Linked DNA regions of Homo sapiens: all the other regions are linked to region 2. Evidence: fine-mapped expression QTL. A gene starts in region 2. Each other region holds a variant in brackets. All regions are shown on one strand. Distances are between the middles of the regions. Region 1 holds the start of SPRN (shadow of prion protein). Region 2 holds the start of MTG1 (mitochondrial ribosome associated GTPase 1). Region 3 overlaps LOC105378575 (a long non-coding RNA gene).

Region 1 (8,180 bases), 26 kb before region 2:
GGGATGCGCCTCCGCGACTGCCCGCCCCAATCCCAGGGCGGAGGCCTCGCGCAAAACCCAGGCGCCGCGGCTCCGCGCTCCGGCTGAGGGTCCGCGCCGCCGCCCGCCCGCTCCTTCCCGCTCGGCCGCGGCCTCAGGGACGGATACTCCAGCGCGCGGTTCCAACCGAGGCCCGTGGCGGGTAAGGCCGGGAGGCTGGGGCGGGTACGGGGCCGGGAGCGAGGGGCGGCGCGGGGAGGGGATGCAGCTGTCGCCCGCACAGCCGTGTCTGGACGCGGCCCCGCAACTCGACCCCGTCCCGCCCCCAGCCAGCTGCTGAACTAGGCGGCCGGGGACGGCATTGAGCGCCGGGCGCGCGCGGGAGGGACTGCCCCTGGGGCACGGGTCTGCTGGGGCGGAGTCCGCACGATGTCAGCAGCCGCTTGTCCTCCGCAGCATCCGCAAGGCCCGCACCCAGGCTTTGGCCCCAAAGGTGGGGACCAGGCCCAGGCACGGCCCGTCCCCGTTCCAGACCCTGATCTGAGCCAGCTCTTGGTCCCGGCTACCGCGTCCTCCAAACACAACGCCCCTCCCCCCATGCCGCCTCCCCCCGCCCCCCACATCCCAGCAACGCGTGCAGAGCTCCCTCCCCCAGGCTTGCTCCCCCGCCCGGGCCTGGACGCCCCCAGAGGCCTGAACGCTCCTGCCCCGCTTCTACACCCCCAATCCAGGTGCACAACCTTCAGGTGCAGAACCCTCCTGCCCCACCTGCCACTTCCCAGCGCCTCCCCCAGGCCTAAGTCCCTGATGCTAGAGGTTAAACCGCGCCCCCCCAGGCCTCAGTGGGCCTCCAAGATGCTGGGGGCACCCTGATCCCACAAAAGATGGGGGTCCCTCTGCTCTCCAGCCTTGAGCCCTCCGCCCCTGGGCACCCGATCTCCATGGAAACTAAGGGCCCTTTCCCTCTCTTCCCGCAGGTTTAGCCCCACGAAGATGAACTGGGCACCCGCAACGTGCTGGGCTCTGCTACTGGCGGCCGCCTTCCTCTGCGACAGCGGCGCAGCCAAGGGCGGCCGCGGAGGTGCGCGGGGCAGTGCCCGGGGAGGGGTCCGCGGGGGTGCGCGCGGGGCCTCGAGGGTGCGCGTGAGGCCGGCGCAGCGCTACGGTGCCCCGGGCTCCTCCCTGCGCGTGGCTGCCGCCGGGGCGGCAGCCGGGGCGGCGGCGGGAGCGGCCGCGGGCCTGGCGGCGGGCTCGGGCTGGAGAAGGGCCGCGGGACCCGGGGAACGCGGCCTGGAGGACGAGGAGGACGGGGTGCCCGGAGGCAACGGGACAGGCCCCGGCATCTACAGCTACCGGGCGTGGACTTCGGGCGCTGGACCCACGCGCGGCCCGCGTCTCTGTCTCGTGCTGGGCGGCGCCCTCGGAGCCCTGGGGCTGCTGCGGCCCTAGGCCTGGCTGGGCTCGGGGACCACATCTGGCCCCCGGCCCGCGCCATCCCCCAGGATCCTCCGGCCTGGGCTCCCCCTTCCTCCCTTGCCCACGGTCTTGGAGCCCCACTGGGTGCAGGAGCTGCTGGCTGTCCCTGTGGACCCGCCATCCACCGTCCTGCCCACGCCGCCTCAGCCTGCCACCTCCCACCTAGAGGAGACCATGGGCCCTGCCCCACCCACTCCAGGATGTTAGGGTCCCCTCAGCCAAAAAGGCAGCTGCCTGTGGCTCCTGTACCAACCGCCCAGCCACGCTCCATCGCCGCCCAAAGGGAGGTGCCAAGGCCAGGAACCCAAGCCACCCCGGCTCCCCTCGCCTGCCCAGGGGCCGTGGTGACTCACGGGCAGGGAGGCGACATCAGGCTGGTTCTGCCACTGAGCCCCTGAGGAATCTGACCCTCCCCAAAAGAAGCAGTGAAATGGACCAAAGGACTTAAGAATTTGGGGGGAAGTGAGGGAAAAACGTTAGGTGCTAACCACCTGCCCAGAAGAGTGGATCTCACAGCCCAGGAACATTCCCAAGCAGGAAAACCGTCCGTCCGAGGAACGTCCATCCTGGCTCTCTGCGGCTGGTGGGAAAACACACCCTGCCCTGAGGGGCTGTCCAGGCCTTCTCCCCCACACCCTCAGGCCGAGATCCGTGAGAGACCCACTTTGCTCCAACAACTTGAAACAAGTCACTTTACCCTCCTTAGGACCCATTTTGGGGGGGAAAAACCAACACATTCCAGAGCTTTCCAAGTCCTTTGAACTTCAGGTTCACATTCAGGGATCACACAGTTCTGCCTGTTCTCAGGGCACAGCAACTGCCAATCCCGCTGAAGAGGCCTCCCTGGGCACAGCACAGGCTGCACGGTGCACGCATTTCCCTGAAGGCAGCCCCTTCTTCGGAAGCAGCTGTTCCAGGCCTCGGAACAGGGCCTGGGTATCCGCGTGGTGGGCTGGCAGCTGACGGCCTGCTCAGTGGAGCCAGGAGCTAACTCAGACCCCAAAGCAAGCAGGGGGCCAGTGGCGGGGCCCAGCGCCCAGCAGGACACCCATGCAAGAGGCTGAGCCCCCCAACATCCAAGGACAGGAGAGACATGGAGTGGCGCTGGACAGTCACGACAAGGACTTGCCTCCAGCACTGGACACACCTGTGTTAAGACCAGCCCTCTGCTTCCCAGTCCCGCCAGCCTGGGGCATCCTCCATGGGCTCAGCACTGAGAGGTCTTGGGTCTGCCACGTTCTCTAGCTCTCCAGTCACCCACTCATCCAGGGTAGGAGGGGTTCTCCCTGCCCCCCGCCGTGGCCTTGGGATCTCACCCTCTCCATGTCCTGGGGACAGCCTCGCCCTCAGCCGGACTGCATCCCTCCTGGGCCTGAGCCTCGGGACTCAGTGGACACCAAAGTCAAGACCAGCACCCACCACGGGCCCTGCCAGCCTCTGCCTTCCCCAGCTGGCCTGGGTTCTGGCCTGGGTGAGGATCTGGAAGCTGTTGGCAGGACTCAACCAAGCACTGCTCTCTAGCTCCAGGGCACTAAGCCACAGGAGGCAGCGCCCTGCAGCCTCCCGTCCACACTGCCAGCAATGCCCCTGGCCCAGTGAGCCCAGACGCTCCTCCACCCCTTCCAGACCAAGCTCAACGCCTCCAAGACCAGCAGGCCAAGGCCAAGCCCTGCCCCAGATCCTCATAGGCAGAGAAGCCCTTCTGACATTTCCCCCAGGAGGCAGGGGGTGGTCTGAGTCTCCTCACAGCAGAGAGACCCACCGGAGCCCCCTCAACTTTGCAGATGCCCACCTGGAAAATGGGCTGAGCTGCACCAGACCCTCACACACCACAGCACTGCAAGCTGATGGAATGTTCCAGTTATGATGGACACTTCGTGATCTGCAATGACTGTTGATTCAGCACATTAGCATCTGACACAGCCAACCTGAATACTTCCTGCCCCAGGCGGTCAGGGTTATGGCACGATGCAGGTGGCACTCAGGGGCTAACTTCAGGCTGATGAGTGTGTGGGGTATGGGGCAGCAGAGGCAGCCAGCCAGCAAAGAGGGGCCACTGAGCACCAGGGCCCTGGTGGAGGCTGCTGTGGGACGGTCAGGCCACCACCGCAAAGAGGCAGCCGGAGCTTCTGCACAGGATGTCCCTGGCCCCAGGTCCTGCAGCACCTTAGTCCATACTACCAGCCCCACCCACCTTCCTTCCTCTTCCCTCTTCTAGGACACAGGCTGTGGACCCCTTCAGGTGCACTATAATGGGGCTGGAGGGGCCCCCACATCTCTCAGCCCCACTAATGCAGAATCCCACTACCCGTGAGCTAGAAGGTGCTCAGAGGCCAGGGGTCTCTACTGCCCATGCCGGGCGGCCTTCCAGTCATTGCACAGCAAAGCCATGTGCAGGGCGTCCCCCTCAACCCTGCCCTGAACATGCCCCAGGGCACTGAGGGGCGAAGCCAGTGCTTGGGCTCTGCTGCTGGGAGTCTCTGGTCTGTGTCTGTGTGTGCCTGTAAGTGTGAAATAAACCTCTCTGATGGCAGCAAGCCTCTCACTTGTTGTAGGACTGCAAGACACTGGACCGAAAGCCTCCAACACAAACCCTAGCTGCCAACCTGCTCATTTCTTAGGTTTCACTGGTGAGAGCAGCTTTAACACACAGGCCCAAGGCACTACGGTGCACCTCACAGGCCAGTAAGAAACAGGCCCTTTAACTGGAGATTTTAAAGGTTACAGGTTATAGCTTTAACTCCTTCTGAGACAGCATCCATTTCTCAAGAGGCCTGAGCAGGAAGCTCCGGGAGAACCAAGCATGCGGAGCTGCTCAGGGACGTCCACTGGGAAGCCTGGTGTCCACTCCCACCTGCTTGGGCCCTGCAACTGGGGTCCCTGGAGCTGGCCAGGCTGTGGGGCGCCAGAGAGCACAGCACCCTAGTGACCAGCATGGAGCTTCTGGACCGGGTGAGCTGTCTTGAGCCTCAACCACCCAGGTCAGGAGGTCTGGGAGGCCACATGCCTCCGGCCCTCCCTACCCGGACAAGTTCAGGGCAAAGTCTCAGCCGGGGGGTGGCCCCGCAGGACGTCGAGGTCCAGCATCACGGAACCCAGCAGCCCACGGCGGAAAGTCTGCAGGAAGTCACGGGCTGCCGCAGGATAGTTAGGCTGAATAATGTTCACGTTACCTGGGGGACGGGAGGGTTCAGTGAGGAAGGAGCCTTCACAGCAGGACAGGCCCAGC[C/A]CTTACCCACCTGAGGGACCAGCCCTAAGAGGCTCCATGATGGCATCAGGGAAGCCCAGGGAACGGGATCACACTCAGAAAGAAAACAGCTTGAGCTACGCTGCCCGGAGCCTCCAAGGCCAGGCATGTGAGGCCTGCAGGTGTCCACCTAGCACTGCCCAATACGCGGCAGGGCTGGTCTCACCCTCGGAAGCCTGGACTACAAGCCCTTCCTCTCCAGAACTTTCTGTAGCTCCCCTGCCCTGAAACCCATTCCCAGAAGACCCGGCGCATGCTCCTTGACACGTTCCTCTCCTCCCTGCCTCCTCCAGGGATGGCCGGGGTCCCCCAGGGTGATGGGGTGAGGCTCCGGTGCCCGCATCAGCGACCTCACTCACCCGTGCCCGTGAGCACCTTCACCTTCTGCGTCTTCCCCAGCTTCACAGCCACACTCTTCAGCACGCGCTCTACGTTGTCACAGGCACTGCCCAGGCCGTAGTGCTGCACGTACCTGCACATAGGCTGCAGGTCAGCACCAGGGGGCCCAGCACTGACACCGCGCGGCCAGCCAGGCCGGGCCCTTCCTCCTGAATGCCACAAAGGCCACGGCCAGGCACCTCCTGTGGGTGACAGTGACTGCGGCGCTGTGGATGACCAAGATGAGACTGCAGGTGACCGGTGCTGGGCCCCGGGGGAGAGCCACTATCTAAGAATCATCCCTGAGCTTCGTCCTGTGTGGCCACGGCCAGCAGCATGGGGGGCGGCTCCCACCACCGGAGCCCTTGCCGCAGCGGGAGGAGTAACAGCTGTTCACACACACAGGCTTCATCCACTCTATCCGGGGTAGGACAGGCAGGCCTCTGTGCAGGCCCAGGTCCTGGAAACTAAAAGAGGAGCACAGCAGACCATCTGCAAACATACTCTGTTTGCTGCTAAGGATGGCACTCGGTAACTTCCAGGCAGCCAGTACACCTGCATCCTCTCCACCCGGCTGGGTGTTTGAGCGGTGTTTTCCTAGCACAGGGACCAGCATGGGCTGACTAGGCACCCACCGCTGCTAAGCGTCACCCAGTGATTGTAACGGGCACTCTGACTCCTCACAGTGCAGGCTCTGGGCAGAGAGGCCTGGAGGGAAAGGCCAGCACAGAGCAGCCACTCACAGGGACAAACACCACCCTAAGCCTTGGGAGCCCGACTAACCCAGACCCAACACTCTCCCAACCTTCCTGACAGCCAGGGGTGAGGGGAACCTGTCTCGTGGCTCCCACGAGGGCAGGCTCAACCTTGAGGAGGCTGGTGCCCTCGGACCTGGTCACAGCATGAGCCGGTAACAGAGGACTCACCCCAAGGCCCAGCAAAGCAAGACATGAGCTCAGAGCCCATAGGAGCATCAGAACCCTGAGTAACACAGGTTCTAAATCTAACTTCTCGGAGGCACCAAGCATGAGCTCTGAATCAGCAGCCTCAAGGGTGCCCTGGTGCTCCAAAAAAGCTGTCCCAGGAGAGAGGAGCAAGCCTGGAGGAGGCGCCCCGGACCACCCCCGAGACCTGCCAATGGGAAGAACTCCTGAAAGGACCGGACTGTTTCCAATAATCTAACTGTCCCACAACAAAGCTCAAGAATTTTTACAGGAATGTAGATATCCATCACCTAACAAGGTGAAACTCAAAATACATGGCATCCAGCCAGGCATGGTGGCTCACGCCTGTAATCCCAGAACTTTGGGAGGCCAAGGTGGACGGATCACTTGAGGTCAGGAGTTCGACACCAGCCTGTTCACCAATATGGTGAAACCCTGTCTCTACTAAAAATACAAAAATTAGCCAGGTGTGGTGGCACATGCTTGTAATCCCAGCTACTTGGGAGGCTAAGGCGGGAGAATCGCTTGAACCCAGGAGGTGGAGGCTGCAGTGGGCTGAGATTGTGCCACTGCACTGTAGCCTGGCTGGGCGACAGAGTGAGATGCCATCTCAAAAAAAAGAAAAAAAGAAAGTCATTGGTAGCTTGATGGGGATGGCATTGAATCTATAAATTACCTTGGGCAGTATGGCCATTTTCACAATATTGATTCTTCCTACCAATGAGCATGGAATGTTCTTCCATTTGTTTGTATTCTCTTTTATTTCATTGAGCAGTGGTTTGTAGTTCTCCTTGAAGAGGTCCTTCACGTCCCTTGTAAGTTGGATTCCTAGGTATTTTATTCTCTTTGAAGCAATTGTGAATGGGAGTTCACTCATGATTTGGCTGTTTGTCTGTTATTGGTGTATAAGAATGCTGGTGATTTTTGTACATTGATTTTGTATCCTGAGACTTTGCTGAAGTTGCTTATCAGCTTAAGGAGATTTTGGGCTGAGACAATGGGGTTTTCTAGATATACAATCATGTCATCTGCAAACAGGGACAATTTGATTTCCTCTTTTCCTAATTGAATACCCTTTATTTCCTTCTCCTGCCTAACTGCCCTGGCCAGAACTTCCAACACTATGTTGAATAGGAGTGGTGAGAGAGGGCATCCCTGTCTTGTGCCAGTTTTCAAAGGGAATGCTTCCAGTTTTTGCCCATTCAGTATGATATTGGCTGTGGGTTTGTCATAGATAGCTCTTATTATTTTGAGATACGTCCCATCAATACCTAATTTATTGAGAGTTTTTAGCATGAAGGTTGTTGAATTTTGTCAAAGGCCTTTTCTGCATCTATTGAGATAATCATGTGGTTTTTGTCTTTGGTTCTGTTTATATGCTGGATTACATTTATTGATTTGCGTATATTGAACCAGCCTTGCATCCCAGGGATGAAGCCCACTTGATCATGGTGGATAAGCTTTTTGATGTGCTGCTGGCCATCAGAGAAATGCAAATCAAAACCACAATGAGATACCATCTCACACCAGTTAGAATGGCAATCATTAAAAAGTCAGGAAACAACAGGTGCTGGAGAGGATGTGGAGAAATAGGAACACTTTTACACTGTTGGTGGGACTGTAAACTAGTTCAACCATTGTGGAAGTCAGTGTGGCGATTCCTCAGGGATCTAGAACTGGAAATACCATTTGACCCAGCTATCCCATTACTGGGTATATACCCAAAGGACTATAAATCATGCTGCTATAAAGACACATGCACACATGTGTTTATTGCGGCATTATTCACAATAGCAAAGACTTGGAACCAACCCAAATGTCCAACAATAATAGACTGGATTAAGAAAATGTGGCACATATACACCATGGAATACTATGCAGCCATAAAAAATGATGAGTTCATGTCCTTTGTAGGGACATGGATGAAATTGGAAATCATCATTCTCAGTAAACTATCGCAAGAACAAAAAACCAAACACCGCATATTCTCACTCATAGGTGGGAATTGAACAATGAGAACACATGGACACAGGAAGGGGAACATCACACACCTGGGACTGTTGTGGGGTGGGGGGAGGGGGGAGGGATAGCATTAGGAGATATACCTAATGCTAAATGACGAGTTAATGGGTGCAGTACACCAGCATGGCACATGT
Region 2 (8,180 bases):
AGCTGGAAACCAACACCTAGGATCTTTTCCAAAGCTCTGCTTCTTACTAAAGCATAAAACAGTTTATAATGCTCCTCGAACCTACTGAAGCAGAAGCGTCAGAGAGAGCACAGACGAAAAGCCTACCTGCTTGACATTTTCATCCTTTACACAGTTGGTAAAAATGACATTTTTTAGGCCTTCTCCTTCTAAGTGTTGCATAATTTTCTGAAAGACACAAAACATTTCTATGTTACTTTTTTTACTGGAGTCTTGGCTCTGTCACCCAGGCTGGAGTGCAGTAGCACAATCTCGGCTCCCTGCAACCTCCGCCTCCCTGGTTCAAGCGATTCTCATGCCTCAGCCTCCCAAGTAGCAGGGATTACAGGCATGCGCCACCACGCCCAGATAATTTTTGAATTCACTGGCCTTAACATGCAGTGAAACTAGTGCAAAGCAGTATCATATTTCTAAACATCAGTGCTGTTAATCATCTGACCTAAAGTATGACTGATGTTTAAATCAACAAGTCCTTCACTGATTCAGCTGGTTTTATTTAGCTGTCCACGAAGATGACACGGATGGAGAGATCAAACATAAGACACACACCTGAAGCCACACACTCTGGGTAGTAAATGTACTTGGGTGTCCCTGCTCAGGGAGGCAGAAGGCAGGGCCACCCAGGGGCAAGTCTACCTCTCTCCCGATTCTTCAGAAGCACTGGCCTTTCTCTGACCAGGTCAGACACTGCTGTGCCCTATACTAGACGGCCACCCACCAGTCTACAAAAAGTCACATTTTCAAAGGCAGGAGTTGCCACTGATATGACGTAAAAGTACCAACTAGTGAAAACACTTGCGATGATTTAAAAAAAAAAAAAAAACAGGCTGGACGCAGTGACTCACGCCTGTAATACCAGCACTTTGGGAGGCCGAGGCGGGCGGATCATGAGGTCAGGAGATTGAGACCATCCTGGCTAACACAGTGAAACCCCGTCTCTACTAAAGATACAAAAAATTAGCCGGGCATGGTGGCGGGCGCCTGTAGTCCCGGCTGCTCAGGAGGCTGAGGCAGGAGAATGGCGTGAACCCGGGAGGCAGAGCTTGCAGTGAGTCAAGATTGCGCCACTGCACTCCAGCCTGGGCGACAGAGCAAGACTCTGCCTCAAAAAAAAAAAAAGAAAATAAGACACAAGACAAAGAGATAAAAGAAAAGACAGCTGTGCCTGGGGGACCACTACCACCAAGATGCAGAGACCGGTAGTGGCCCCAAATGTCTGGCTGCACTAATATTTATTGGATACAAAGCAAAAGGGGCAGGGTAAGGAGTGTGAGCCATCTCCAATGACAGGTAAGGTCACGTGGGTCATGTGTCCACTGGACAAGGGGCCCTTCCCTGCCTGGCAGCCAAGGCAGAGAGAGAGGGAGAAAGAGAGACAGCTTACGCCATTATTTCTGCTTATCAGAGACTTTCGGTACTTTCACTAATTTTGCTACTGCTATCTAAAAGACAGAGCCAGGTGTACAAGATGGAACATCAAGGCGGACTAGGAGCGTGACCACTGAAGCACAGCATCACAGGGAGACAGTTAAGCCTCCGGATAACTGCGGGCAGGCCTGACTGATGTCAGGTCCTCCACAAGAGGTGGAGGAGTAGAGTCTTCTCTAAACTCCCCTGGGGAAAGGGAGACTCCCTTTCCCGGTCTGCTAAGTAGCGGGTGCTTTTCCTTGACACTGACGCTACCGCTAGACCACAGTCGGCTTGGCAACGGGCGTCTTCCCAGACACTGGCGTTACCGCTAGACCAAGGAGTCCTCTGGTGGCCCTGTCTGGGCATAACAGAAGGCTCACACACTTGTCACGTCTCACTATGTCCCCTCAGCTCCTATCTCTGTATGGCCTGGTTTTTCCTAGGTTATGATTATAGAGCAAGAATTATAATAATATTGGAATGAAGAGTAATTGCTACAAACTAATGATTAGTAATATTCATATACAATCATATCTATGACCTATATCTAGTATAACTATTCTTATTTCATATGTTTTATTACACTGGAAAAGCTCGTGTCCTCGGTCTCTTGCCTCGGCACCTGGGTGGCTTGCTGCCCACAATGCGCACTCACTGACCACTCGGGCTCTGGCAGCACAACCTGGCCACTTCCCACAGGAGACGTGCACTCCCTGGGTGTCCAGGTCACGAACCACACATTAGATGGGGGCACGCCATATGAGAAACGATGCTGGCACGCTTCTGCAAAGCAAAGGGCTGTTTCTAAAGCAGAGCCTGCCTGGGCAAACTGACAAGTGTGCGTCCGGCAACTCTTCCGTTAGAACAAGCGACCTCGGGAAAACACAGCCACACTGCTGAAGGCGTCTGAGAGAAAGGCCTTTACCTGCTGCTCTGTAAGATCCGCCAAGTCCATCTTGTTGAGGACCAGCAAGTGAGGCTTAAGCCCAAGGGTTTCCTGAAACAGAGGGTTGCGGCCTGAAAGTGGGATGTGGCAAAATTAAGGTAAAAATTCCTCCAAAGCTTTACCAGCCAACCAACTTTTTTTCTTGCCATCAGTGAACGAATCATCACATCCTGCCAATTCATTCCTCAAGTACAGGAGAAAAGCCCCAGTTGGCAGGAACATTTAAACAGTTTCATAGCCCATCTAGAGGATTCCACTGCTGCACCGTACCGTCAGGCTTGAGTGACGCAGATATATGTATTAACAATGAAGTTTCAAAGACACGCAGTCTGGACCCCACATCACAGATTCTGATTAACTGGTCTAGAAAGGGGCCTCGCAATTCATATTTTTAAAAGCCTCCCCAGGTAATTCTAATGTGTAATATGACTTCAGGCAGAGGGGCCTCCCCTGCTCTGTGAAAGGATATCCGGGCATCGTGGACCTCGATGATACAGTCCACCAGCTTCAGGCTGCTCTGCATCTTCTTCAGCCCTGGAAAACAGAAGGACGCCTCAGCGAAGGGGCTCACAACCTTTCTAGAGTGATCGATTCAAGCTGAACCGTCCAGAATGACACGCCACCATAAATAACCTAAAAAGACTATATCTGAGGGAAGCGTACTAAGTAATGGTAACAGATAACATCCGCTGAGCGCCTCCTCCAAGGTCCGCACCCTCGGAGTGGGAGACTGGGAGGCACCCTGCCACAGGGTGGGCCATGTGTCAAAAGCCAGATGCGGTCTTCACCACCTGACTCATGGCTGACTCTGGGTGGAATATTTAACGTGCATGGGTCGCTTTTTTGTTTTCTGAGACGGAGTCTTGCTCTGTCACCCAGGCTGGAGTGCAGTGGCACGATCTCGGCTCACTGCAACCTCCGCCTGCCAGGTTCAAGCAATTCTCCTGCCTCAGCCTCCCGAGTAGCTGGGACTACAGGGACGCGCCACCATGCCGGGCTAATTTTTTGTATTTTTAGTAGAGACACGGTTTCACCATGCTGGCCAGGATAGTCTCGATGTCCTGACCTCGTGATCTGCCCACCTCGGCCTCCCAAAGTACTGGGATTACAAGCGTGAGCCACCGGGCCGGGCCCTTCCACGGGTCTTAATCTGGGCTATAACACAGAGTAACACTGGCTCATTAGGCCCCTGCTACCTCGCGGGGATGATGACGATAGTCCCCTAACCAGGAATACCACACACAACCAAGATAACAAAGCTTCCAGCTTTCTTCCCCTCCAGTGTTATCCGAAGACCGAGGACACAGCCTCAGTCACCCACACGGGCCCTTCTTCCCCCTCGGCCCCCAGTACACGCGGAGCCGACGCAGGAGTGGCCATCACAACACCTAGACGGGCTGGGCTGGCCCCAGAGGTCTTCTTGGGGCCGAATTGTGACAAACAGTAAGAATTACCAAAGACGTTAAGCAGGAGAACGACTCAAGATACCAGTTAAAACTGAACAGGTGCCTTCATACCCACTGTTTCATTTAGTCCCCAAAAGACTCAGAAAAGTCTATCTTGTCAAGAACATGTGGAAACGGAGGCTTCGGGGGATTAAAAGGGCAGAAGGAACTTGCTGGGAACAGAGGACAGGGGCGGCGGGCCAGAGGTAGGAGGTCAAGCAGGCCCTGGGTCCGAGGCTGCGCCGCGGGGGCACTCGCGGGAACGGGCCTCTCCCGCAGCTGCGCAGGGGAAGGGGTCCCGGCGGCTCCGGGAGCGGGTGAGAGCGGGGAAGGAGGGGAGACAAGGGAGGAGGGGCGGGGCCAGCCCAGAACGACCGGGAGAAGCAGGCGACGGCCGAAACCGGGGTGGGAGGGAAGCAGAGGCGCCGCGGCCGTAGGCATGACCTTGCCCCTCCCCGCCGTGCCTCACCCTTGGCCATGTGGCCCGGGAACCAGCGCGCCACGTCGCGACCGCACAGGGGGAAGTTCTCCCGCCAGGCGGCCTGGGCGGCGCTGCACAGCGCGCGCGGGGTCAATCTCATGGCGGCACCGTCCCCGGAAACGCTCCCGCAGCTGACCTCCTCTGCGCCGCTGCGACCCGCCTCTGAGGTTCCGGCGCTGCGGGCCTCCGGCACTGCGGGCTTCCGGCGCTCCAAGGGGCCGCACCACGGCCTGCGCGTGCGCACGACGTTGCCTCCGCCTCCGGCGAAGCCCGGAGTGGGCGGGGCCCGGGCCCAGAGGGAGGGACGAATGGTGGGTCGAGCGTCGGGGCGGGACTGCGAGGAGACCCGGGGGGACGGGGAGGTTCCTGGGTTTTGTGGGTTTAAGTAATTCGCAGATTTATTAACATTCATTAAATATTAAAAATCATCGTTCTCCCTTAAGCATATCCTGAGTATAAGTGTAAAAATTTAGCAATCTCTTTTTACAATTTGGTTAAAATCTCTCAAATACTTTAAATTTACCTTATAAATGTAATCTCTTCATTTTCTTTTTAAGTACTTCAGGGTTTTTGTTTGTTTTGTTTTGTTTGAGACGGAGTCTCCGCTCTGTTGCCCAAGAGTGCAGTGGCACGATCTCGCTCATTGCAACCTCCAACTCCTGAGTTCAAGGGATTCTCCCACCTCAGCCTCCGGAGTAGCTGGGATTACTGGCGCCTGCCACCACGCCGGCTGATTTTGTATTTTTAGTAGAGATGGAGTTCCACCATGTTGGCCAGGCTGGTCTCCAACTCCTGACCTCAAGTGATCTACCTGTCTCGGCCTCCCAAAATGCTGGGATTACAGGCATGAGCCACCGCGCGCAGCCTCAAGTACTTCAGGGTTTAATATAACAAACTGTTTCCAAATACTGACTGCAGTTCTGCTAAATTAAACCGATTAATTAATGAGGCTGAAATATTCTCCACTGTCCAAGACTAGACATAAATATAGTCGGATTTCAACTCTAAATCAGCAGTCAGCAACTGCTCAATTGCACACTGCGTTACAAGAGTATTACTCTACCGGAATTTTTATTTTTGAGACGGAGTCTCGCTCTGTCGCCAGGCTGGAGTGCAGTGGCGTGATCTTGGCTCACTGCAACCTCCGCCTCCCGGGGTTCAAGCAGTTCTCCTGCCTTAGCCTCCTGAGTAGCTGGGACTACAGGTGCGCACCACCACGCCCGGCTACTTTTTTTGTATTTTTAGTAGAGATGGGGTTTCACCATGTTGGCCAGGCTAGTCTCGAACTCTGACCTCAGGTGATCTGCCCACCTCAGCCTCCCAAAGTGCTGGAATTACAGGCATGAGCCATGGCACCCAGCCTCTACTGGAATTTTTTAAACAAGCTACTGAAAATACCAAACATGCTCAAATTCTAAGTACAAAAATATTGCCATGGTTCTGATGTTCTTAAACCACCTAATACCCTAACGCCTAGCTGTAAATATTTTTGGGCATGAGAGAGTGGCCCCTCCGTGGAAGACAGAAGCCTCCCAGGTGGTTTCTGGGCTGAGTGGGGGCAGTCAGGGCCTCCTGCTAGGTCAATGCCCCCAAGCCCCCTCCTCACCAAGCCGGTCCCTCACACCCAGAGGGGGCAGCCTGGGTCTTGCTGCCTTTCTCCCTGGGATACAGAATTGATGAAACCCTAAATGTCAATGATAAAGATTTTTGTACTTTAAGGAAGCTGCATTCCCTCATGGTCCTAGGAGCACAAAACCACAATAAAACCCTGTGGAATCTGAATTTCTCTCCCAGGCGTCTGATGGGCAGGTGTCCCCAGAGAGAACAGTCTGGTGACACAGCAAATGCAGGTGGGGCTGCTGGCTACAGAGGGAGGCTGGGGCTCGGGAGGGTGGGGTCAGGGAACATCCTAGGAGGGGCAATTTGAACAGAGACCAGAGGGTGAGAAGAGAGGAGCCCTGCAGATCCAGGCTGGGGTGGAGGGGCCGGAGAGGGGCCTGGACTCCCAGCACATTCACCCCAATACCACGTGGTACCCCAGCACTGCCCACACCCCAACATCCCCCGGCACCCAGCACACTCACCCCAACACCCCCCAGCACCCAACACTACCCACACCCCAACACCCCCCAGCACCCCAGCACTGCCCCCACCCCAACACCCCCCAGCACCCAGCACACTCACCCCAGCACTGCCCACGCCCCACACACTCCCTGGCTCCCATGGGCTGGGCACCGTTTCTCTTTTCAGGCCTTATTATGTATTCACTTCCTCCAGAAAACCCCCGGCCTCAGGGCAGGGCAGGGCACCCCTCATCTCCCCAGTGCCCTGCGAACCTGTGAAGTGGGCGCCTGATGCAGCATCAGTTGATGAGCAAGAGGAGGGTTGTCAGCTATGCTGTCATCCCAGGCAGCAGCCACGAGAATGCAGGGGCACGAGAAGCAACTACAGGACCCAGAGTTCAGGGAACCCAGAGTGTGGGGCCATGTGTGGTTGTGGGGATTGGAGACACAGGGCCCTGTGCAACCTGGGCCCGGAGCAAGACAAAGACAACAGCAGCAGATGCTGGAGCCCCAAGGCAGGAAGGACAGGACAGCCTCAAGGCAGGAAAGATGGCTCTGGGAGCTGTGGCTGTAACTTGCTTTATGTGTCCAGCATCTCCGTGAGCATCTGGTGTCTCAGCTCAAGTCAACCCTGGCCAGACTCCAATAACAGACACAAGAACTGAGAAGGTGGCCCTGGTTACCAAAAACCAGAGGACCCTCATTAACATCCCCAAATTTCAAGCCAGACTGAAATCTGTCAGAAGAAATGAGGGTCCCAGCCTACCCCCGACACGGGTGGAACAGAGTAGGCTGGGCCCAGCTAGAGCCTGGGCCTGGGCTGCTGCACCTGCGGGGCCCACAGACTGAGGAGGCGGTCGGCCTCCCTCCATCCCGACAGCAGAGCCCCGTGCGTCGTGGAGTAAAACGTGCGATGTGTGGCTTCCCCCGCAAACAGGATCTGGAGCTGCAAAGAAGAGCCAGGGTTAGAATGGGGATGCAATTCAGACAGCAGGGTCTGGGCAAGGAAACACAGAAAATGGCTCACAAGCATCCACCAAGAAGCAGGAAAACAGCTCACACACCTCCACCAACGGACGAGAAAAGGGCTCACGTGTACCCACCAATAGCCAGGAAAACAGCTCACACACATCCACCAACGGGCAGGAAAACAGCTCACATGTATCCATCAACAGCCAGGAAAACGGCTCACACGCATCCACCAACGGGCGGGAAAACGGCTCACACGCATCCACCAACGGGCGGGAAAACGGCTCACACGCATCCACCAACGGGTGGGAAGACGGCTCACACGCATCCACCAATGGGTGGGAAAGGAAGCCACTGCACCCCGCAGCTCAGGTGTGAACAGCTTTTAGAGAAAACAAGGGGTGTAAACACTGAATAGTGATCTGGCCTCAACTCCTGGATCACATATGGGGAGGGTGGGGGAGGGATCTGGGAGTCGGGTGGGCAGAGGAAGAAAGCTACAGCCTTATCTGATGTAATGAGAAGTCAATTAGTAACACCTGAAACTGAAAACTCAAGAAGCAACATTTCCAAGCAGGTTCACTGAAGAGAGACCATGAGCTGATTGGAAAACTGAACAGTGACTAAATATTGGATCATATTGAGGAATGATTATTAATTTTTAAGTGGGTAAATGGTATCATAGTTATATGGTTTTATTTTTATGTTTTCTGAGACAGAGTCTTGCTCTGACACCCAGGCTGGAGTCCAGTGGTGCAGTCATAGCTTACTCCAGCCTCAACTTCCTGGGCCCAAGCCTGAGCAGCTGGGACTACAGGTGCATGCTA
Region 3 (8,180 bases), 120 kb before region 2:
GTATTTAAGAGTAGCATAACTGGTCAGGCTCTACACTTCTTGAATTGATTACGAAAACTACATTTTTTCTAGGAATTGTGATTTCTTGTAAGCTGTCAAATTTATTCACATAAATTTGTTTTAGTATTGTCTTATGTTTACAGTCATGGTTGTATTTATCATTATGTTCCTTTGACATCCCAAACATTGTTTATTTGTGCTTTTTTGTGCTTAAGTAGTCTCAGAAGCAGTTTCTCTACTTTATTAATCTTTTTCAAATAGCAAGCCTTGGTTGTGTTCCTCTCTATTTCCTCATTATTTTGTATTTCATGATTTCTGCCCTTCTTTGGGTCCAGTATGCTGCTTAGTTTCAGTTGGACATTTGGCTTATTAATTTTCAGTCCGTCTTTCTTAGTACAAGGACTTATGATTATATATTTACCTGTAAGATCTTCTGTTACTGCTTCCCCAAGTGCTGATATTTAACGGTTCCATTATTCACTGAGCTCTGTGTGCTTTCTTAATCTCCATCCCTTGATTCATGATTCATGTGCAAATGGGGTATTTTTCAAAATATATAGAAATTATTTTTTAATTAGAGAAAATTTCAAATGTGAAAAAACAGTGAGAGAAAGATAAAGCACCCCCACATAGCTAACACTCAAATTCAACAATGGTCAAAATGCAGTTAATTTTGTTGCATCTTTAGAGTTAAGACCTTACTCTCTCTAATCTCTCTCAAACTACTTACAATGCCAATACCACAGCTAAAAATAAAATAATTTTATGAAGATTGTTAGTTTATACTTTTACTGATGTCTAATTTAATTCCATTGTTGTCAGAGAATGTGGTGTGTATATAAGTTTTGTACAGTTTACTGAACTTACTGTATGGCCTAGCACAGTGCTCCCTAGAGTGTGGTATGCAGACCATCGGTGACGAGGCTGTACAGAAATTGAGAGCAGGCAACTGTTCAAACTGTGTTCAAATACGGCAAACACAGAGCTGTAAACAATCCAGCTGTTTCTAGACCTCATTTTCATTTTCTCTACATTTCTTTTCTGTTCATAAATCTTCCACCACGTGGCTCCACTGCAGTCTCTCTGAGCCTATTCTGGCCTAATTAAACTCTGTTAAATTTAATTTGTCTAATAAAGCTTTTCCTTTAAATATAGGATTGGAAGAAATATTGGCCACAAAGGAAAATTCACATTGGCAGAAGTCATAATGAGTTAAAAATAATGGATATGAACCCCCCACAAAAAAACTAAGGAACCAAATCTTCATTGGATAATTTAAATGGAGAAACTAATCTAGAATAAAACCATTAATGTAAAATTAAAGTGCAAAAAAGTCAGACAGTTCAACTACTCTGTGTAAAAACGTGATACGATATTAAATAACTTAAGAGAATTTAAAGAAAAGTCATGAATGTTGGCATAATTCAGTGTTAAAGTTGCATACGTATGTCCAAATGTCACCTGAATTAAAACATCCTTACAATCAAAGTTCAGGATAGAAACTCTCGGGCTCAAAGGTCTCCTGCCTTCCCTACTTTTATCTTGTTAATTTTTTTTTAAAAAAAGAAAAACCAGGTGTTGTGTGTGTGTGTGTTTGAGACACAGTCTCCCTCTATTGCCCAGGCTGGAGTGCAGAGGTGAGATCTTGGCTCACTGCAGCCTCAATCTCCTAGGCTCAAGCAATCCTCCCACCTCAGCCTCCCAAGTAGCTGGGACTACAGGTGCGTGCCACCAAGCCTGGTTAATTTTTTTTTTTTTTAGAGACAGGGTCTCACTATGTAGCCCAGGCTGGTCTGGAACTCCTGGCCTCAAGCGATATTCCCACCTTGGTCTCCCAAAGCACTGGGAAAGTTTAATTTTTAATGAAGTATGACGTATATGTCAAGGTTTATTTGTTTTGCATGTGGACACTCGATTTTCCCAGCACTGTTTGTTGAAAAGACTACCCTTTGTCCATCAAGTTGCTACTGCACCTATGTAAAAACAGGTATATTTGTCTGGGTCTATTTCTGGGCTGTCTATCCTGACCCATTAACTTGTCTTTGTCTTTCACCAAAATCATACTCTTTTTTACTGTACCTCAAGCTGAAGGACTCTTGCTACCCAGTTTACATCTTTAAATTGGGCAGCGGGAATAAATTAGGTAACGAGAGTCCTACAACTTTGTTCTTTTTCATAGTTGTTTTGACCATTCTAGTTCCTTTGCCTTTCTGCATAGATTTTAGAATTATTTGATCAATATCTGATTGCTAAGATATTGATTAGAATAGCATTGAATTTATAGATAAAACTGGGGACAATTGATGCACTAACAAGAATCTTTTCCAACCCATGAACATGACATATCCTGCATATATTTTATTAAATTAATATCTAAGTGCTTCATATGTTGCTATTGTAAATGTTTTTTAAACATTTAATTTTATTTAAAAATTCTAGTTTCCTATTTAGTTATTCATTGCTGGTACATAGGAATACAATTGCCTTTTGTACATTGACTTTATATTCTAGTCTTGCTAAACCCATTTATTAGTTTCCAGTAGCTTTTGGGGGTAAATATGTAGGGATTTCCATATAGATAATTATATAACCTATGAATGAAAACAGATTTATTTCTTCTTCTCCAATCTGCCTGCCTTTTATTTCTTTTTCTTGACTTACTGCACAGTATTGAATAGGAGTGGAGATATGGTTTGGCTGTGTCCCCACCCAACTCTCTCCTTGAATTGTAATAATCCCCACATGTCAAGGGCAGGGCCAGGTGGAGATCACTGAATCATGGGGCAGTTTCCCCCAGACTGTTCTCACAGTAGTGAATAAATCTCACGAGATCTGATGGTTTTACAGATGGGAGTTCCCCTGCACAAGCTCTCTTACCTACCACCATGTGAGATGTGACTTTGCTCCTCCATCGCCTTCCACCATGACCATGAGGCTTCCGCAGCCATGTGAAACTGTGAGTCCATTAAACCTCTTTCCTTTATAAATTAGCCAGTGTCAGGTATGTCTTTATTAGCAGCGTGAGAGCACACTAATACAAGTGGTGCGAGAGGAACTGTTGACATTTTTTCCAGTCTTGGGGGAAAGCATTTACCCACTTATCTTCAAGTATGATGTTAGCCGTAAGTTTTTGTAGTTGCCCTTTGTTAAGGTAGGGACATTCTTTTCTATTCCTAGAATGCTGTGAATTTTTAGTGGGAATGGAGGATGAATTTTATTGTTTTTACAGTATTTTTTGAAAAGACAATATAATTTTTCTTATTCAGCCTGTTAATACAGAAAATTACATTAATTTTCCCATTTATTATTTTTTAAAATGTATTGAGGTGAAATTCATTTAACAGAAAATGGATCGTTTTAAAATGAACAACTCAGTGGCATTTCGTACATACACAATATTGTGCAACCGCCACCTCTGCTTCCAAAACATCCTCATCATTCCAGAATAAAACCTCATACCCATCAAGCAGCTTCTCTCCATTTCTCCCTGCTCCTAGTCCCTGGCAATCACCAGTCTGTGTTCTGTCTTTAGGAATTGACCTATTCTGGCTATTTCATGTAAATGGAGTCATACAGTTTCTATTGCTCTATCTTCAAGTTAGTCTTTCCTGAGCTGTGCCAGTTTCCTGGTGAGCCTTTTGAAGGCATTTTTCTTCTCTAGTGCTGTGGTTTAAAATTTCTATTGTTCCCATGACGTTCATGTTTATAGTTTCCAGCTCTCTGCTAAAATGACCTACCTGATCTTGCGTATGGTCTGTCTTTTTCATTAGGACCATTAGCATATTACTGAGTTGTTTTAAATTCCCTTTCTGATAGTTCCACCACCTGTGTCATATCCGAGTCTAGCAGTAATGATTATTTTATGTCTTCTGTTTTTCCTTGCTTTTTTGCATACTGGACATCTTGTGTAAGACAGTAGATACTAAGGTCAAAAGTGTTTTATGCTTTGAGAAGAGCACACATTTTATTTTGCTAGTTCTTTATGTGTGGGGGCTTGTGCTCATCTTAATGGGGGTTAGGCTGAGTCGCAAGTTTGTTGTTTCTGTGTGAACATGTACCAGCAGCTCCTGATTCCCCTAGACATACTTCGAGTTTGTCTGCATGCATCGCTTTCGCTCTCTCTTTGCTCCTGGGAGAGAGGCTCTCTCTTGCAGCTCCACCAGCTCTATTCCACTGATATTTTTATATGATGCTTGTCAGTGAGATTATGGAGTGTGGAGGAG[G/T]ACAGCATTCCCTGAGGTTCTAATTTAGCCTCAGTCTTCGGCAGACCCTGTCTTTCCAGCCCTTCCAAGCTCCAGGAATGCTGTGGGATCGCCTGTAATTTTCAGAGGCAGAAGTTCCTCCTTGATTGTGTCCCTCCACAGAGCACTAGATAAGGAGAGAATCAGTAACTTCCACTTATGCAACATCTTTTAAAGTAATTTTCTAGCATCTATTTCTGAGATTTTAAGGACAATCATGGCATGGAGACATCCTATAATACTCCAGTGGCATCTTGAAATTGCCAAGACTGTGAGAAGCATTTCAGAAACCTGGGGAATTATTTTCTGGATTTAAATCATGTGGAAGTTGTGGTGCTTTTAATATATTTATCTCATTTGGATGTTTCATATGCAGAAGATATGTCAGTTGTATTCATAGCCTAGGAAATAGAGTCCTGTCTAACACTCCATAGTTTGTATTTTTTAAACTTAAAACTCTATTTACAAGGACAATCTTCTGTGTCGTATATTTTGTAGGTTAATATATGCCCAGAAACAACTCCCACAAAGCCCAGACTCCTCAAGTGCATGCCAGGGAATAACCTTTGTATGAAATCGAATGATAATATGTTGCAAGAGTTAGATCAATTTGCAAAAGAGTCCGTTAAATGATGATGACAGCACAATGTGAAAAGCTGGCAATAAGGCACTTCCAATAATAGATATGAGGACATCACCAGTGTACATCAGTTTCAAAAGTTCTTACTTTTTTCAGTAATCTGATTTCAATTTCTAATTAATGAAGATTGGGGAAGTTACCTTTTAACTATTTCTAACTTTGTTGACTTAAGATCAAAGAATGTGGACTGTAAAGTGTTTACTTTTTATAATTTGATAAGGTTTACTTTGTTCCCAAGTACAAAATTGATTTTTGTAATTGGGACATGAACACACAAACAAAACGTTATCTTCTGTTTAAAAAGTAAGTTTAATGATTACATTATTCAGTTTTTTCCATATTTGCTTCTTGTACTAAATTTGTCCAATTCTGAAACTGTGTTTTGAAGGTTGCCACTGTCATAGAACTATGGTCTAGTTCTTTTTTTATTTCTAGTAGATCTCAGTTCAAATATTTAGTTCCATGTTTTTGGTAAATAGAGATTTGTGGCTGTTACATCTTCTTCATAAATTATGCCTTTTATAATTGTCTACTACCTCTCTGTGTCCTGTTTAGTGCATTTATCTATAAATACTGCAGCTGTTGTAATCTCAATACTATCAAATACATAAGGAAAAGTATGCTAAGTGTATAGCCTGATGGGTTATCACAACATGAGTGTGGCCATGCCGAAGGGCTTTCAGAGTAGAAACATCACCCGCCCTCGGAAAAACATCACTGGCTGTCACCAACTCCTCCCCTAGTCCTAGGGGAGTTTATCCTACCTTTTAATACCACAGAATAGTCCTGGCCACTTTTAGACTTTATGTAACATTCGCTGAATCACACAGTATGCATTCTTTGTGTCTTAATTCTTTTACTTAGCTTCATGTTTGTGTGATTCACTCATGTTTGTGAACTTAACTTCATGTTTGTGTTATTTGTAGAAGTAGTTCATTCTTTTTCACTGCTATATATTATTCCACTCTGTGAGTATAGCATGATGCATCAATTATACCCCAAACAATACTGTTTTTTCTACTTTTTCACTATGCAAATAATGCTGTCATGAAATTTCAGTGCCTGCCTTTTAATGCACCTGCGTTGCTTACCTCTGTTGTTTATATATCTAAAAGTGAAATTGCTGTAACGTAAGGTAAGCACAAGTCATAAGTCAAGCTTCTATGCATGTGTGAGTCTGCACTTTGTGTGGCTCCATTGGTTTATTTGTCCCTCCTTGCACCAATCCCACACTGTCTTATTTAGAACATTTTAAAAATTACTCTTGATATCTGATAGTGTAACTCTTCCAACTTTGTTCCTCTCCTAGGGGATATTCTTGGCCCTTTGCATTTCTACCTACATTTTAAAGTCATCTTGTCCATTTCTACCAAAAACTACTGAAATGTCTGGAATCGCACTCAATCTATAGATCAATTTGTGGAGAACGGATATGTTGCAACAATGACTGCTCTAATTCATAAACATGGTATCAGTTATTTCTGTGCAAGGAAACTCCCAGAACTCTCTCCTAATCCAGACTAGGCTGGGATGAGTGGCCTGTTGCAGGTGGGGTGGGTGGAGTGGTCCTGCCTTCCTGAAGGTCTTGTGTGGCTCTGCTTCACATCTCTCATGCTTTTTGGAACAGTTGAGGAGCTGACACATGTGTCCTCATGACCGTGGCAGGAGCACCTTCTCAGACACCTCCTTGCATTGGTTGCTCACTGTTTTAATCATGCACTGTTGGGTCTGACATGAATTTGGAGAAATATGTGACCTACCAAAGGCCTCGAAAGGCATATCTGGGGTCTCTGCATTCTCTTCATTTGTTGCAGACAAGTTGTTCAAAGCTAAGATTCAGGATGTGATGGTGCTCATGGCAATTTCCCTGCTGCACTAATTTTGGAATTTTCTTTTTTGTTCCATTGTTATTCTTGGCTAGTTTCAAAAGAGGAGAGTATAATAAAAATGACACGCATCTACTATCATTAAACAGAAGTCTCCATACTACTTTCCGTTCTTTTATTTTTCAAAATCATCATATGTAAAATAGACTTCTTTTCCTTTGGTGTACAGATCTATGAAATATAATGCTATTATATGTATTATATATATTATATTTATAATATAGAGTATATTTATTATATTTATTGTAGTATATATTATATTTTATGTAACTCCCACCATAAACGGGTACAAAACAATTCCCTCAATGCAATTATTTATCAGTTCTAGTAGTTTTGATGTAGTCTTTATGGTTTTCTGTACGTAATATCATGTCATCTGCAAACAGGAACCGTATTATTTCCTCCTTTCCAATCTGGATGCCTTTTATTTCTTGCTCTTGCCTAATTACTCTAGCTAAGACTGACAGTAGTACTACGTTGAATGGAAGTGGTGAGAGTGGGCATCCTTGTCTTGTTCTTGATCTTAGATGGTTTGACGCTTGTCTATAGTGATATGCTTTGACTATTTTCTTCTTATCTTTTGTGTATCTACTACAGATTTTTGCTTTGTGGTTACTTGAGGCTTGCAGAAAACATCTTATGTTTATAACCAGCTATTTTTAAGCTGATAAAAGCTTAATTTTGATTGCATAAATAAACTCTACATTTCTACTCCCCCACCTCATATTTTATGCTTTTGATGTCACAATTTATATCATTTCATCATTTGTATCTCTCAACAGATTATTGTAGCTATGGTTGTTTTTAATTGCTTTATCTTTTAACCTTTGTACTAGAGATAGAATTGTTTTACAGAAGACCATTGCCTGATTACTAGTTTGAATCTGACAATGTACTTACTTTTACCAGTAAGTTTTTTATTTTTGTATTTTTATCCTATCAATTAGTATCCTTTTAATCCAGCTTGAAGAATTCCTAGAATTTCTTGTAAGGCACATCTAATGGTGATATCCTTCCTCGACTTTTGTTTGTTTGAGAAAGTCTTATTCTTGCCTTCATTTTTGAAAGATAGTATTACTAGGTATGGTATTCTTGGGCAGTAATTTTTTTTTCTTTTAGGATTTTGAATATATCATCCAGCTCCTTCCTGGCCTATAAAGTTTCTGGAAAAAGAAAATCCATGGATATCTTACACGGTGGGCATCCCTTTTGTGTAACTATTTGCTGTCCCTTGTTGCTTTCAAAATTCTCTCTTTGTCTAAATTTTTAACAATTTGATTATAATATGTCTCAAATGTGTGTCTCTGGATTTTTCCTATTTGGTGTCATCTGAGTTTCCTGAATCTTGATTTCAATTTATTTCCCTAAGCTTGGGAGGTTTTTCCCCATCATTTCTTTGAATATGTTTTGTGT

What was found.
Region 1: its variant is fine-mapped to the expression of MTG1 in whole blood (TOPMed, PIP above 0.99).
Region 3: its variant is fine-mapped to the expression of MTG1 in adrenal gland (GTEx, PIP above 0.99). The same link has a PIP of 0.9 or more in transverse colon.

Annotation. Positions count from the first base shown.
Region 1 is chr10:133,416,474-133,424,653 of GRCh38, reverse strand. It overlaps MTG1 (mitochondrial ribosome associated GTPase 1), which reads right to left. Exons shown (of 11, transcript NM_138384.4): 10 at 5,062-5,174; 11 at 2,134-4,628. The coding sequence ends at 4,489. SPRN (shadow of prion protein) reads left to right here and starts at 29. Exons shown (of 2, transcript NM_001391974.1): 1 at 29-181; 2 at 957-3,988. The coding sequence starts at 973. The coding sequence ends at 1,428. It overlaps LOC124902564 (a long non-coding RNA gene), which reads right to left and starts at 84. Exons shown (of 2, transcript XR_007062397.1): 1 at 1-84. RefSeq lists enhancers at 1-213, 1,032-1,651. The variant C/A (reference allele first, on the strand shown) is at 4,685.
Region 2 is chr10:133,390,462-133,398,641 of GRCh38, reverse strand. MTG1 (mitochondrial ribosome associated GTPase 1) reads right to left here and starts at 4,485. Exons shown (of 11, transcript NM_138384.4): 1 at 4,310-4,485; 2 at 2,865-2,929; 3 at 2,375-2,479; 4 at 127-207. The coding sequence starts at 4,421. It overlaps PAOX (polyamine oxidase), which reads right to left. Exons shown (of 7, transcript NM_152911.4): 7 at 6,948-7,330. The coding sequence ends at 7,187. RefSeq lists an enhancer at 2,805-3,759 and silencers at 4,084-4,283, 4,344-4,693.
Region 3 is chr10:133,508,996-133,517,175 of GRCh38, reverse strand. It overlaps LOC105378575 (a long non-coding RNA gene), which reads left to right. Exons shown (of 5, transcript XR_946512.3): 3 at 2,848-2,956; 4 at 7,887-7,963. Among named protein-coding and RNA genes, the nearest start is that of CYP2E1, 14 kb to the left of the region's middle. The variant G/T (reference allele first, on the strand shown) is at 4,224.